Regions from separate parts of the Homo sapiens genome. Here region 2 is linked to region 1. The links come from fine-mapping of genetic effects on gene expression. A gene starts in region 1. The other region holds a variant in brackets. All regions are shown on one strand. Distances are between the middles of the regions. Region 1 holds the start of EXO5 (exonuclease 5). Region 2 has its middle 21 kb from the start of ZNF684.

Evidence for each region. PIP is the estimated chance that this variant, and not a neighbour inherited with it, causes the effect.
Region 2: its variant is fine-mapped to the expression of EXO5 in stomach (GTEx, PIP 0.92).

The regions. Positions count from the first base shown.
Region 1 is chr1:40,505,537-40,513,878 of GRCh38, forward strand. It overlaps EXO5 (exonuclease 5), which reads left to right and starts at 3,231. Exons shown (of 4, transcript NM_001346953.2): 1 at 3,231-3,372; 2 at 3,915-4,089; 3 at 4,197-4,254. EXO5-DT (EXO5 divergent transcript) reads right to left here and starts at 3,159. Exons shown (of 2, transcript NR_187365.1): 1 at 3,053-3,159. RefSeq lists enhancers at 3,268-3,517, 3,548-3,637.
Region 2 is chr1:40,548,325-40,556,666 of GRCh38, forward strand. No RefSeq gene overlaps it. Among named protein-coding and RNA genes, the nearest start is that of ZNF684, 21 kb to the left of the region's middle. The variant T/C (reference allele first, on the strand shown) is at 4,171.

The DNA of each region.
Region 1 (8,342 bases):
CAAATTCCATGACTGTTTCTAAATCTCTTCTGCTTCACTCTACCCAGTGTCATTGCCCCTCAAACCCCATTTGAGGAGTGGTCCATGTGTGAAGGGGTTGGGGAGGGGTTTTCCTGGCATTCAGTTTACATCTCAAGTAAGAAAGGTTATGTTGGGGAAGAGGCAGAAAGTTTTTGTAGCCTCAATCCAGAAATGCCTTCTCATATCTCAATGGATTAAAAAGCATTTCCTCAATGATATGGTTTGGTTGTCTCCCAACCCAAATCTCATCTTGAAGTGTAGCTCCCATAATTCCCACATATCATGGAAGAGGTACCTGGTAGGAGGTAATTGAATCGTGGGGGCAGGTCTTTCCCATGCTGTTCTCGTGATAGTGAATAAGTCTCACAAGATCTGATGGTTTTGTTTTGTTTCGTTTTTGTTTTTGAGATGGAATTTCACTCTTGTTGCCCAGGCTGGAGTGCAGTGGCGCGATCTCAGCTCACCACAACCTCCGCCTCCCAGGTTCAAGTGATTCTCCTGCCTCAGCCTCCCGAATAGCTGGGATTACAGGCGTCTGCCACCATGCTTGGCTAATTTTTTGTATTTTTAGTAGAGATAGGGTTTCACCATGTTGGCCAGGCTGGTCTTGAACTCCTGACCTTAGGTGATCCACCAGCCATGGCCTCCCAAAGTGCTGGGATTACGGGCATAAGGCACCACACCCAGCTGACCTGATGGTTTTATAAAGGTGTGTTCCCCTGCACATGTTCTCTCTTGCCTGCCACCATGTAAGAGGTGACTTTGCTCCTCCTTCACCTTCCTCCATGATTGTGAGGCCTCCCCCGCCATGTGGAGCCGTGAGTCAATTAAATCTCTTTCCTTTATAAATTACCCAATCTCAGGTATGTCTTTATTAGCAGCATGAGAACAGACTATTTAATACACTTAAATTCCATTTTTTTTTTTTTTTTTTTTTGAGACAAGAGTCTCAGTCAGCCACCCAGGCTGGAGTGCAGTGGCATGATCTCGGCTCACTGCAACCACCATCTCCCGGTTTCAAGCGATTCTCCCATCTCAGCCTCCCGAGTAGCTAGGATTACAGGCACCTGCCATCATGCCCGGCTAATTTTTGTATTTTAGTAGAGACAGGGTTTCACCATGTTGGCCAGGCTGGTCTTGAACTCCTGACTTCAGGTGATCCGCCCGCCTCGGCCTCCCAAAGTGCTAGGATTACAGGCGAGAGCCACCGTACCTGGCCTCAACTTACATATTTCTAAGAAAAAGAACATTTTCCTACATAACCACAAAATCATTATGACACTCAGGAGACCTATAATTGATTGATAATATTATCTAAAACACAAGTCACTTCAAAATTTTCCCAACTGACGCACCAGAGTAGCTGGGACTACAGGCACGTATCACCACCCCCAGCTAATTTTTGTATTTTTTGTAGAGACGTGTTTTCACCATGTTACCCCAGCTGGTTTCTGAACTGAGCTCAAGGGATCCACCCACTTCGGCCTCCCAGAGTTCTAGGATTACAGGTGTGTGAGCCACTGCACTCAGCCTGTAGTTGTCTTAATTTAATGTTTCTCTTTCTTTCTTTTCTTTTCTTTCTTTCTCTTTCTTTCTTTTTCTTTCCTTTTTTCTCTTTCTTTTTTTCCTTTTTTTTTTTGAGACAGAGTCTCACTTTATCACCCAGGCTGGAGTGCAGTGGCCTGTTGTCGGCTCACTGCAAACTCCGCCTCCCAGGTTCAAGTGATTCTCCTGCCTCAGCCTCCCAAGTAGCTGAGATTACAGGCACCTGCCACCACACTTGGCTAATTTTTTGTATTTTTACTAGAAACGGGGTTTCACTATGTTGGCCAGGCTGGTCTCAACTCCTGACCTCAAGTGATCCGCCTACCTGGGCCTCCCAAAGTGTTGGTATTACAGGCATGAGCCACCATGCCTGGCCAATTTAATGTTTTTCTATTTTTGTTTTAAAATATTTACCTATTCTGAAGTCCAAAGATATTTTCCTATATTATATTCTGAAGACTTTATAGTTTAGGATTTCACATTTAGGTCTTAATCCAGCTACAATTGATTTTTGTGATGAAATGAGAGATAGAGGTCCTGTTTTCTGTTTTGTTTTTTTTTTTGAGACGGAGTCTCCCTCTGTTGCCCAGGCTGAAGTGCAGTGGTGTGATCTCCGCTCACTGCAACCTCCGCCTCCCGGTTCAAGCGATTCTCCTGCTTCAGCCTCCTGAATAGCTGGGACTACAGGTGTGTGCCACCACACCCAGCTAATTTTTGTACTTTTTAGTAGAGACAGGGTTTCACCATGTTGGCCAGGATGGTCTCGATCTCTTAACCTCGTGATCCGCCCACCTCAGCCTCCCAAAGTGCTGGGATTACAGGCGTGAGCCACCGTGCCCGGCCTTCATATTGTCATAGAACCTTCACTGAATAGACCATCTTTTCTCCATGGCTGTATGATGCCACCTTTGTCATAAATCCAGTTTTCAAGTATGCGTGATAAACCGTAAAGAAAAGCAAAGAGTCAAGTATCTGCTTTTGGTAAAATAAATAAATAAATAAATATAAATAAGAAAAGCAAAGTGTTATAAAAGTCGGGCTAGTGGTTTTCTCAGGAAGTGTATCTGTGAAGAACCTGACACTATTCTTTTTTCGCTCTAATGACTTGGCTGTTCATAATTATACTTATCTTTGGTTTATATTTCAGAATAAAATTGTGTTATATTTATCAATAAAAGGTTAGTTAAAAGTAAGCAAACAGAAAAAAAAAAAGAAATATTGATGAGGGGAGCGCCAGCATCTCTCAAAAGTGAGTTCGTGGTTTTGCTCTCAATGGAAAAGCCGGCGGGAGGTGCTAAGGTGGGGATGCTGAATCCACGGATGGCCAAGCGGAGACGCGGCACTTCACCGGGGGCAGCGAGGGGCCCAGACCTTGCTCGGATTGTCCCGGTGGTAACTGGGAGACCTCGCCAGTGAGGGAAGTTACAGATCAGCTGCGCCCGGAATTAAACGACCCACAGACAACGGCGCAAACAGAGGGACTGACCTGCTTTAGTGAGCTCCCAAAACCTGCTCTCGCATAAGCACACCCTCCTCCGCTCACAGAGACGGATTTCTGCCCCAGCCGCAGCCTCGCGAGGTAGGCGGCGCCGCGAGGGCCTCTGGGAAGGCGGTCCGTGGGCAGCCGCGGGGCACTCTGGGACTGGGCTCTGGGCGGCTTTTTTGCGAGTGGCGGGCCGACTGTGTAGTCCGCTCCGGCAGCGCGCTCTGCCCGGCTTCCTCAGTCTCCTCGCCGGGAGCGTCCGGGAGCAGCTCCGAGGCCGCGGCGAAACCAGGTGGAGTCCGAGGTTCGGAGGAGTATCAGAGGTTAGGGGAAGGCCGGAGAATGGGCTGGGAGGCTGCGTTTCGGAGCTTAGGGTTCTGTCCCTGCGATCGCCGCGTCTCCCTCCCTTGGTGGGCGCGGCTCCCGGGAAGCGGCTCGTCTCGTCTCCCCTCACAGGCCGGGTTCCCGTTCTGGACCTTCGCCCTCGGAACACAGTGCTGTTGGCCGGGACTCCTTCCCGAGGTGGACGGCTCCCTGTTCTTATTCCTGGCTCTGCCAGAACTGTAGGAAGTGCTCAGTACACTTTAGGGCATGCATGGCACTCCCTGGGAGACAGTGCTTTAGGGCCAGAGGAAAGATCTTCCCTGAAGGCAAACGCCCGCGGAGCCCACAAGTCCGGGCCGCACTGAACAAGTCAGGATGTTGCCATCGGCAATTCTGCAGAAGGCAGTAACCCATCTGAGAGAAAGAGCCGCTGTCATAAGGTCTCTTGCTTGAGCTGCTGGGTTGAGAATGGAGCTGGAAGAGGGAACTGATCTCGGAGCTCCTTGGGGATCTTGGTTATGTCTGACCCTTTTACTTTCAGGGAGCAGGGATTGGATCAAGTCATTGCATCTAGAGTACGGGGGAACGAAGAAATCATGGAGAGAGTTTGCCCCAGGAGAGAGGCGAGCGTTATGTAACCTAGGATCTGGGGTGGGTAACAGTCTGTGCAGTGTCAATGTGAGAGGAGAAAACACCCAACGTGAGGGAATGGTCAGGTAAGAAAGGACCAGAAGTTCCGGTTCTACCATAGCAAGGACCTAAGTTGCTAATTTAGGTTCTTTAATGCAGACCTGGTCTTTCAGAACTTCTTTCTCTTCCCTAGCCTTGTCATTTCAGCATTCTGGCCTTCCCTATGAGGAGGAAGATCAACGAAGTCACAGGTGAATAGGAGTTTCTCTTCTAAAGTTTCATCTCCTTTGTCAGGGGGAATCGATACACTCTCTCATCTCTTCCTTGGGGAAAAAGAAGGAGATCTATCTTCATCGAGTGCTAATATGCGTACTATATGTTATCACTCAATGGTCGGATATCTCAGTAGGGTTAGTAGGTATTTTAAAAATGTGTCAGTAACTTCAGGAAAACTAGAACCTTGTCCAAGCTTACTCAAAAGGCAAGTAGCATACTACTAAATGCTACCGAACTACTCAGGATTAGGTTTAGAATCCATATCTGTAGGACTCCCAGACTCTTGGCATTATGCTGTTTCCCAGCATCCCATTCACTTACTACCTAACAATTTTGCCATACCTGTGTACTACCTGTATTATTCTATGTTTTTACTTACTTTTTTTTTTTATAAAAATCAAACTTGTCCTAAGAAACAATATCTGTGAAATTAGCCATTTGATGGCTGCTCCAATAACAGTATAGTTATTCTAAGGTGTATCTAAAAATGTTGGTCCATGTGCTATGTAAAATCGTCTCGTGTCAGACATACAAACTACAATTTGGGACACAATGCACTGCATTATGCTCTCTTCTGGATTCTTTTCTGCGTAGGAAAGTCCCAGACACATCTGAGCATCAGTCATCCATCCCTAGTGTACTGTTTTATTCTTATAGATGAATACTTTCACAGAGAATGCCCTGCTTTGTATCTTCTCCAAAAGACATTTCACTTCCCTGTTTAGAACTACCTGTTCTCAATGTTGTATGTAAAACAAGTAGGAACTCCATACATTTCAGGAGCTTCCTCTCTCTTTGGGGAGTTAATGTGTACACAGGAAATAGTCTAACTCTATGCTGTTCAGTAGAGCTTTCTGTGATCAGGGAATGTTCTGTATCTGTGCCTTATCTGTATCCACCAGCCAGATGTAGCTACTGAGCACTTAATATATGGCTAGTGCAACTGAGATGTGAATTTTATTTTATTTTAATTAAATTTAAGTAGCCACATATGGCTAGTGGCTACTAATGGCTACCATATTGGACAGCCAGGTCTAGATATTTGAAATAAAATATTTTAAGGTTATTGATTTGGACTTGGAGTTCCCCCTCACCCTCACAAATACCTCATAGCATATGTGTTATAAATGCCCTTTAGGGCTGGGTGCGGTGGCTCACGCCTGTAATCACAGCACTTTGGGAGGCCGAGGCGGGTGCATCACGAGGTCAGGAGATCGAGACCATCCTGGCTAACACGATGAAACCCCGTCTCTACTAAAAAATACAAAAATTAGCTGGGCGCGGTGGCGGGTGCCTGTAGTCCCAGCTACTCGGGAGGCTGAGGCAGGAGAATGGCGTGAACCCGGGAGGCAGAGCTTGCAGTGAGCTGAGATCCCGCCACTGCACTCCAGCCTGGGTGAAAGAGTGAGACTCTGTCTCAAAAAATAAAATAAAAGAAAAGAAAAAATAAATGCCCTTTAACTTTAGTTTCTTGGTGAAGGGTAAATATTCTTTCCAATTTTCAGAGACTTCATAGTTGAAATAAAGTTTCTTGAAATTATTTAAAGCACATTGACAGTTTATAACACTTGTGTAAATGCACAGCTTCTGTATTTTGTTACTATTGAAATATCCTGTAAAGCAATAATGTTGTAGGATACTCTATAAGCAAAAGTCTTACTATTGTATTATTTTTATTCATTGCAGATAACTTTTCTTCTAGCTATCTATGTTTTCTTTCATTAGTGACATTTAGACTATTTAAAAATCAGTTAAACACAACCACAACTGATATTAATGACGTTTTCAGGGCATCACTTCTTACGCTTTGACATAGGAGTTGGTGCATTCACCTTATTTCACTGCTTATTAGAATAGCAAGAAGGGGACATTTGGTTCATAGCTATCTCTATCAGCTAAAATTCTATGTCAAATTATTTATTTTCCTGGCACTCAAAGTCAAACACTAATGGACTGGTTGTATCTTGTTTTGCTTACTCTCTATGCAGGTTAGATATGTGGGGTTAGAAGGAAGGCTTAAAAAGAGTATCTTCATAAGATAATTTGCCTAGTTTCTTTTTTCTTTTTTCTTTTTTTTTTTTGAGACGGAGTCTCGCTCTGTTGCCCAGGCTGGAGCACAGTGGTGGGATCTCAGCTCACTGCACGCTCCGCCTCCTGGGTTCACGCCATTCTCCTGCCTCAGCCTCCCAAGTAGCTCGGACTACAGGCACCCACCACCAAGCCCGGCTAATTTTTTGTACTTTTAGTAGAGACAGGTTTCACCGTGTTAGTCAGGATGGTCTCGATCTCCTGACCTCATGATCCGCCCGCCTTGGCCTCCCAAAGTGCTGGGATTACAGGCGTGAACCACTGCGCTTGGCCGCCCAGTTTCTTAAGATTAAAAAATACTTGAAAGACAAAACAATCAAACATAATGTGTGGTCTTTGTTTCCTGGATTAAAGAAAAGCTATCTAGGACATTTTGAGGACAGTTGGGGAAATTTATATATGAACTGGAATGTTAAGGAATTACTAATTTTGTCAGATGTGATAATGTAGTTATGAGGAGAATGTCATTTGGAAGACAGTATTGTGGTTATGAAGAAGAATGCCATTTGGAAATTATGCTGAAACATTTAGATTTTAAAGTTTTATGCTATCTGTAATTTACTTTAAAATAGTTCAGCCAAAACAAAAAAGTACACACACAAGAAGTAAATACAGCAAAATGTCAACAGTTGTTCATCTACATGGTGTGGACATGGGTGTTTGTTGTTTTATTCTTTCTACTTCTCTGTATGTTTGAAAATTTTCTTTTTCTTTTGAGATGGAGTCTTCACTCTGTCACCCAGGCTGGAGTGCAGTGGTGTTATCTCAGCTCACTGCAACCTCCACTTCCTAGGTTCAAGCGATTTTCCTGCCTCAGCCTCCCGAGTAGCTAGGATTACAGGTGCCCGCCACCACACCCGGCTAATTTTTTGTATTTTTAGTTTCACCATGAGGTGTATTTTTAGTTTCACCATGCTGGCCAGGCTGGTCTCAAACTCCCGACCCCAGGTGATCCACCTGCCTCGGCCTCCCAAAGTGCCGAGATTACAGGCTTTAGCCACTGTACCCGGCCTTGAAAATCTTTATAGTAAAAAGTTGAAAGAAAAAAGGAGTACAGTACCCATCCCCATCCCACAGTAGGGTAGTGAGATATTGGATGTAAAACACGTGGCTCAGTGTCTGGCACACAAAAAATAACCGCACAATAAATATTCTCTATTATAGCAGTAAATTTTGAGTTTTTAATAATGCTGTAATAGGCAGATTTTTTTCCCATTATAAGCTAGTTTCTTGTGGAGGGAGAAAATAAACTTAATGGGAAACTCCAGTTTAGTGACAGACACCAATTTCTATAATATTAAGAGGATAATTTATGAAGTCAAGCTACTAATTTCCATGTGTCGCTGTAACATCCTCTTATTATTTCATGCATTAATTTGTGTTAGACTATATTTATTTGTATCTATATATAGTTGATCTTTGAATTTTGCCATACTAGGTTCCTTGAACTGCATTTAAAAACAGTTATTGCAGAGCTCCTTTTTCTCAAGGAACAGTTTGTAGTTGAGATTCATTTTGCTCGTCAAGGACTTTGTATAAAGGAAATTGTAGAAAGTGGCCCATGGTAAACTTCTCAAACATTGTTCCTACATTTACAAAGATGTATATTCACTTAAAATAATGAAATACTCTTTCAAGTCAATAGAATTTTGAAGCAGAAAAGGCAAACCTCAAATCTCCTTTTTTTTTTTTTTTCTTTTTCTTGAGACAGAGTCTTGCTCTGTCACCCAGGCTGGAGTGCAGTGGTGCAGTCTCGGCTCACTGCAACTTCCATCTCCCTGTTCAAGCAATTCTGCTGCCTCAGCCTCCTGAGTAGCTGGGAATACAGGTGTGTGCCACCATACCTGGCTAATTTTTGTATTTTTAGTAGAGATGGGGTTTCACCATGTTAGCCAGGCTGGTCTTGAACTCCTGACCTCAAGTGATCTGCCCACCTCAGCCTCCCAAAGTGCTGCGATTACAGGTGTGAGCCACC
Region 2 (8,342 bases), 43 kb after region 1:
GTTGCCTGGGTTCAAGCGATTCTCCTGCTTCAGCCTCCTGAGTGGCTGGGACTACAGGCGCATGCCACCACACCTGGCTAATTTTTGTATTTTTAGTAGAGACAGGGTTTTGCTATGTTGGCCAGGATGGTCTCGAACTCCTGACTTCGTGATCTGCCCACCTCGGCCTCCCGAAGTGCTGGGATTATAGGCGTGAGCCACTGCGTCCGGCCAGCTTAAGTGGCATTTAACTGGGGCATCATCTGTATTTTATTTTAATTAAGTAGGGTCTCATGATACTTTGCAACTTTTGGGGAGAGAGTTTTGGGGATTTTGTTGTTTTGTTTGTTTGTTTGAGGCGGAGTCTCACTCTGTCACCCAGGCTGGAGTGCAGTGGCGCAATCTTGGCTTACTGCAAGCTCCGCCTCCTGGGTGCACGCCATTCTCCTGCCTCAGCCTCCCGAATATCTGGAACTACAGGCGCCTGCCACCAGGCCTGGCTAATTTTTTTTTTTTTTTTTTTGTATTTTTAGTAGAGACGGGGTTTCACCACGTTAGCCAGGATGGTCTCGATCTCTTGACCTCGTGATCCTCCTGCCTCAGTCTCCCAAAGTGCTGGGATTACAGGCGTGAGCCACCATGCCCGGCCTGTTTTTGTATTTTTAGTAGAGATGGGGTTTCACCATGTTAGCCAGGATGGTCTCGATCTCCTGACCTCGTGATCTGCCCACCTCGGCCTCCCAAAGTGCTGGGATTACAGGCGTGAGCCACCATGCCTGGCCTTTTGTTGTTTTATAGAGACAAGGTCTCACCCTGTTCCTGAGTCTTGAGTGCAATGGCACAATCATAGCTCACCGTAACCTTGAACTCCTGGGTTTAAGCATTCCTCCTACCTCAGCCTCTTAAGTAGCGAAGACGACAGGTGCAAGCCACCACACCTGGCTAATTTTTTATTTTTTGTAGAGAAGGTGTCTCACTATGTTGCCTAGGCTGGTCTTGAACTCCTGGCCTCTAGTGATCCCCCTGCCTCTCATCCCCCTTCAGCCTCCCAAAGCACTGGGATTACAGGGATTTTTTTTTTTTTTTTTTTTTGAGAAGTCAAAACATGTTTAGCCCCGAAGATGCCTGGAATTTTCCGTATGAACAGCATAGGCATCATTAATGAAGATGAAAACTTGTTAGAAAAGAGCAAGTTTTTCTGCTTAGCAACTTTGGAATATGACATTTTGTAAGTTCTACATATTCCCTTCAAGGATTAATTAGCCATTATTTAAAGTTTTCTTGCTGTCCACAGTATTCCTTGGTAATGCCAAAAAACTTATATGTCTTTCTTGAGTGGTGACAAAACTTAGACTTGAACCTAAATTCAGAAATCAAGCCTTTTAAGTTTAAGCTCAGTTACAATTATGTTGCATTGTTTTCTTTCATTAGCCATTTTTTGAAAGAGTAGTGTTGGGTAATAACCATAAACGATAGTGCTTTTTTGAATAAGCATACTGGGACTTTAAAGACCTAAATTAAATCTTGTCTTTCTAAGTTATTTTAGGAGGCTATATGCTAATTTCACTTATGAGGTCATTCCAAAATTTCTGGAACCTTCTTTTCATGGAGTTGTCTTCAAAATCAGTATGCCATCCACACAGGAAAATCTTGGTATTTATAGTCGCAGTACTTGCCTTTTTTCAGCTCAGGAGTTTTCTGTCATTTCCTACATGAAGTCCTCACTTCAGCCTATGTAGTGCTTACCATTTCCATTCTCTCTCCTTCCCCGGCCTGTAACCCTCATCTGAGAAACTCCAAACTACACAGATAAAGGAAGAGAGATAGGGGGCAGGAGGCTCCACTGTTGCTGCATGGTATGAGATGCCCCTGAAAGAGCAGCTATGTAGGTCAAGGTGGCAAGAAGTGTGCAATAGTCTGCTCCAGCTTACCGGAAATAAAATATAGCCAGGACATTTAAATTGTAATATATCAGGATGTATCTGGTTTCATAATTTTGTTTGCTCCCATACAAATGAATTCTACCTAGAAATCGAGTGGGATAATTTTCTGCAAATATGCCTTAGCTGTACTTTGGATGGAGTCAGAGGCTGAGGCTATGAGAAGGTGCCTATAATAAGAGGGAGTTAGTGGCTGACAATTTGCTTGGTGGTTGTGTGCAAGATAAGTAAGAGGGGAAAGACCAGTGTATGAAGGAGACTAAGGAAAATCCTAACAGGACAATTTAATATTTGGAAATTGTGAACCTTGACTCTGATCGAACTCCAAACCAATTCACCTCCTCTCATTTCCCCATCATGCCTTTATCTCCTTGTTCTGATTACCCTCCTCATTCATTCTTCTGAGATGGCTTACCCGATTCTCAGAGTTCACCCCGCATCCTTGTTAAAAATCTTTTAAAAATTCTTTTGTCATCATTATAACTTTGTATCTATTTCACCATCTTTCACAGGTTGGAAAGTATTGTTTCTAACTTTAAAAAAGCTATGTGATGGGGCATAATAGTTCATGCCTGTGATAGTGGTACTTAGGGAGGCCGAGGCGGGAGGATCACTTGAGCCCTGGAGTTTGAGACAACCCTGGGCAACATAGTGAGACCCCCATCTCTATAAAGGGGAAAAAAATGAGCCAGCTTTGTGCACACCTCTAGTCCCCCCAGGAGGATAGGGGGCGACTGAGGTGAGAGGATTGCTTGAGCCTGGGAGGTCGAGGCTGCAGTGAGCCATATTTGCGCCACTGCACTCCAGCCTGGGTGACAGAGCAAGATTGTCTGAAAAAAAAAAAAGCTACTTGTTTTCAATTATTGTCAGTTTTCCAGACCCCTATTTTAGCAGTATTTTCTTAAAGCTCAGGGGCAAGGCAAATGCAGGATTCTGTTTTGTTTTGTTGTCCAGAATGGGAATGACAATTATCATCTATAGGGTAGGTGGTAATGAGATGGAAGAGATATTTTGACCTTTTGTTTTGTTGTCCAGACCTGAAACCAGAAACTGTAAGTGTTAAAAAAAAAAAAAAAAATGAAGTGTACCCTATCAAAATGTTAAATGTACAGTACACTATTGTTTACTAGATGCACTTCATTGTAGAGCAGATCTCTAGAACTTTTTCATCTTGTATGACTGAAACTGAGTACCCATTGAACAATTCCCCATTTCTAACCCCTCCAGCTCCTGGCAACCACCATTTTACTTAACTGATTCTGTAAGTTTGACTACTTTAGATAATACATATAAGTGGAATCATGCAGTATTTGTCCTTTCATGACTGGTTTATTTCACTTGGCCTATTTTTTTTTTTTTTTTTTGAGACGGGGTCTCACTGTGTCACCCAGGTTGGAGTGCAGTGGCGCGATCACAGCTCACTGCAGCTTGAACTCCTGGGCTCAAGTAATCCTCCCTCCTCAGCTTCTTGAGTAGCTGGAATCATAGCTGCATGTCACTATGCCTGGCTTAAAAAAGTTTTGTTTTGTTTTGTTTTGTTTTTGGTACAGACTGGGTCTTGTTTTGTTGCCCAGGCTGGTCTCAAACTCCTGGCTTCAAGTGATCCTCCTGCCTCGGCCTCCTGAGGTTCTGGGATTGTAAGTGTGAGCCACCCTGTCCAGCTGACTTACCCTAATTCTTAAGGATCATTCACATTGTAGCTTATGACAGAATTTCCTTCTTTTTTAAGGCTGAATTATTCCATTGTATTTATATCCCACATTGTCTTTATTCAACCATTGATGGACATTTAGGTTGTTTGCAATTCTTGGCTATTGTGAATAATGCTACTATGAACACGGGACAGCAACTATCCCTTTGGGATCCTGTTTTCAATTCTTTTGGATAAATACCCAGAAGTGGGATTGCTGCATCTTATGGTAGCTCTATTTTTAATTATTTGAGAAGCCTTCATATTGTTTTCCATAGCAGCTTGACCATTTTACATTCCCACCTTAGCGTTCAAGGGTTCCAATTTCTCCACATCCTTGCCAACACTCGTTATTTCTTGTTTTCGTAAGTGATATTACTGATTTTATTGAAAAGATTACAGAAAATTTTGAGTTATAAGTAGACAATTTTAATGTAGAGTATAAAGCTTAGGAAATTGTGAGGAATTGAATATGAGGCTTCAGATGGACTATAATTACATGTATGCACTGCCCCGATTTTTTTATACAAATTATAGAAATATCTGCATTGCTTCAAAATT[T/C]ATATAACTATAGGTTTGAAATATGTCATGTACTTTATACAAAATTTTATCTATTATGATAATGGTTGTACAACATCATGACTGTACTTAGTGCCAGTGAATGATACACTTAAAAATGGTTAAAATCTTAAATCTTATTTACATTTTACCACAATTTTTTAAAATGCTCCCAAAATTGTGTCTATTAAAAGTTTCTGGCCAGGTGTGGTGGCTCACCTGAGGTCAAGAATTTGAGACCAGCCTGGCCAACATGGTGAAACCCCGTCTCTACTAAAAATACAAAAATTAGCCGGGCGTGATGGTGGGTGCCTGTAGTCCCAGCTACTCAGGAGGCTGAGGCAGGAGAATTGCTGGAACCTGGAAGATGGAAGTTGCAGTGGGCCGATATCATGCCACTGCATTCCAGCCTGGGGGACAGAGTGAGACTCCATCTCAAAAAAAAAAAAAAAAAAAAAAAGAGTCTCTGGTAAACACCTTGTCTCTTCAAATCCTAAAAACCACCATTTGCATAATTGCTGATTGTAAGTGAAATAATATGATTTATTATCTAGTATGAAGTTCATTTCTATGAACTTCATTTCTGACCATTTCCTGGTGCCAGTCAATAGATGTGGCAGTTGTTACTGAGCATTCTCGAACCTCCTTTTAGATAAAAGAAGTCAGGGACAGTCACGTAGTCTTCTACTGCCTCTGGCTCAGCTGAGAGCATTGTAATATGTTTTCTTCCCCATGCAAACCACAAACGGGGTGTGTGTGTATGTACTTGTGCATATAGATATATTTAATCCTGATTAACAAGATACTGAAGAAAGAAAGCAGCTGTGTTCTGTATTACTTTAAGCATTTAGTACAGGAAAAGAGGCATTTCTGCAGGTAAATAGATTTATAAATATAACTCATCCTGTTTCACTGCCGTAGCTACATATGTAGGAGTAAACCTACAGGAGGTCAAGCAGCATGTAACTAGGGAACTCCTATATTTAGTTGAGAAAAATTAATCATGATACTTCGCAGAGACTTCTGGAAGAAAATTAATTAGCATTATATTCTAAAGGAATTTAGGATGGGGGAATGAATAGGTCTTTGCATCAACATACGTGCTATGATTGAAAGGCAAATAAAAACTAGTTAGGGCTTGGTGACTCTTCTTCCCTAATAAGGGAAATGTTCATGATATTTTAATTGAAAAATATTTAAAAAGTTACAGAGAATATCCCAATTTAAAAAAGTTTTATATACATATGTGTTCCAAAATGTAAATAGTAGTAACTTTTGGGTGATGTGATTATGTATTTTGTACTTTTTCTACATCTTCTCTAATTATATATAATATTTACTTTTTTTTTTTTTTTTTTTTTGAGACAGGGTCTCACTCTATTGCCTAGGCTGGAGAGCAGAGGTGCAAATAGGGCTCACTGCAGCTGGAGAGCAGAGGTGCAAATAGGGCTCACTGCAGCTGGAGAGCAGAGGTGCAAATAGGGCTCACTGCAGGCTGGACCTCCCTGGGCTCAGGTGATCCTCCCACTTCAGTCTGCTGAGTAGCTGGGACTACAGGCACACACCACCATGCCCAGTTAATTTTTGTATTTTTTGGTAGAGAGGGGGTTTCACCATGTTGCCCAGGCTAGTCTCGAACTCCTGGGCTCAAGGGATCTGCCCACCTCAGCCTTCCAAAATGCCAGGATTACAAGTGTGAACCACTGTGCCTGGCCTTAGCACTTTTCTTATCAGAAAATAAAAATTTTATATATATATAGAGAGAGAGAGAGAGAGCAAATGAAATGTTATTCCCTTTGCAGTGGTGGGAGGTGTACTTGAAATGTTTGTTGTTTTCTTTTTCCTTTTTTTTTTTTTTTTTTGAGATAAAGTTTCACTCTTGTCGCCCAGCCTGGAGTGCAATGGCGCCATCTCAACTCACTGCAACCTCTGCCTCCCAGGTTCAAGTGATTCTCCTGCCTCAGCCTCCCGAGTAGCTGGGATTACAGGCATGCGCTACCATGCCTGGCTAATTTTTGTATTTTTAGTAGAGACGGGGTTTCCCCATGTTGGCCAGGCTGGTCTCGAACTCCTGACCTCAGGTGACCCACCCACCTCAGCCTTCCAAAGTGTTGGGATTGCAGGTGTGAGCCGCTGCACCCGGCCGAAATGTTTGTTGTTTACATCAAATTTTATTTTATTTTTCTTTTTTTTGAGATGGAGTTTTACTCTTGTTGCCCAGGCTGGAGTGCAATGCCGTGGTCTTGGCTCACTGCAACCTCCGTCTCCTGGGTTCAAGCAATTCTCCTGCCTCAGTCTCCCGACTAGCTGGGATTACAGGGGCCTGCTACCATGCCCGACTAGTTTTTGTATTTTTAGTAGAGACGAGGTTTCACCATGTTGGCAAGGCTGGTCTTGAACTCCTGACCTCAGGTGATCCGCCTCCTTGGCCTCCCAAAGTGCTGGGATTACAGCCGTGAGCCACCGCGTCCGGCCCAAATTTCCTTTCCATGGATGAATGGTGATGATAACAACCATCCACAGCCTAGGAAAAAAGTCATAATTTAAGTATTCTAGCCTAGAAATACAAGCTGTCAAACTATTGGGCAAGATAAGAGGCTTACAGTTGCTGATGCAATTATTATATAAAAAGAATATGCAGCAGTCAGAGAAAATCTTTAGCCAAGTGAATAGATAATACAACTATACTGCACACACATTCTAGAAGAGAAGAATATGGAGAAGAACCAGAGATCATACTTTCTATATGTAAAATCAAGTAGATCGTAGGCTTAGAGGTTTCATTTATATCAGCAACTAATTTACGTGTGTCTGTATTATTCAATGTAGGATCATTATAGATATGAGGTATTTTAACACTGCAGATGATTTTTCAGTATGGTCTGAGGTGGTATAGTCATACATGCACTTGATCTTGCTTCTTTTCTCATAGCTAAAATAAACTCTAGGGTTGGGCATTAAAAACTATGGTTTTAAGCATTTAAACAGTAAGAAGTTTCTATTCTATTTAGAAATAAATTTTACAAAATAACAATGTAACTGGTATGGTTATTCATTATTAACTAAGAACAAAGCCAATTTTATGTGTGTACCTGAGTAAATTTGTAAAGCAAACTCCTTAGCAAAATATTGTCAAGCTCCCTATATTCAAACTAAGTCAAAATGCTAAAAGTCTCTGTATTTTGGAGACCAACTTAAATACGTTCATTTTCACAACCAGTTCCCAAAAACTTGTCTTAATTAAGGATTGAAAATGATTGCTACTATGTGAACATATCTAATTACTGGGAATTTACTCTGATCAGCTTTGGTTCTTAAGTTGCTATGTCTCTAGATTTAGTAATTTTGCATTAATTCACTGTACTGCAATGAATGGGTTTGTGATGATTCAGGTACAAGATTGAGAGAGTGGATAGCTATTCAGAATTTATGTTTTTTTGTTTGTTTGTTTGTTTTTTTGAGACAGAGTCTCGCTCTGTCGCTCAGGTTGGAGTGCAGTGGTGCAATCTTGGCTCACTGCACCTCCGCCTCCCAGATTCCAGAGATTCTCCTGCCTCAGCCTCCTGAGTAGCTGGGATTACAGGTGCGTGCCACCACGCCTCGCTAATTTTCGTATTTTTAGTAGAGACAGGGTTTCACCATGTTGGCCAGGCTAGTCTCAAACTCCTGACCTTGTGATCCGCCCACTTCAGCCTCCCAAGGTGTTGGGATTACAGGTGTGAGGCACCGTGTCCAGCCTAGAATATATGTTTTAAATCTGCCTTTAAGTAACATATAATATAGTTTTAAAAAACAAGGGTTACAATTATTACAGACTAAACATTCATTATGCTGATGCGTGAATTTCAAGACTGAAAAACCACTAGTAAATTATTTCAAAGCTTTACAAAAGACAGTGAATTTTACTCTGTGACATCTCACAATGCAACTTACTTTTTCTTCTTAGAACCATAATAAATACAAATAACCATACTCAAAGATCTAGCACATCCTTATTCATATGTTTTATAGCGCAATAACCGGGAAGGAAAGTACTGGCTTTTAAGTAATCCTATAAAACAATTTCAGTTGATAAAACACCTGCCTACTTATTGGCAAAACTACCAGTTCTTATGAAGGGTATTTTAATGCTCAGCTGCTCTATTGAGGTGTGAATGCAGCTAAGTTTGCACTTG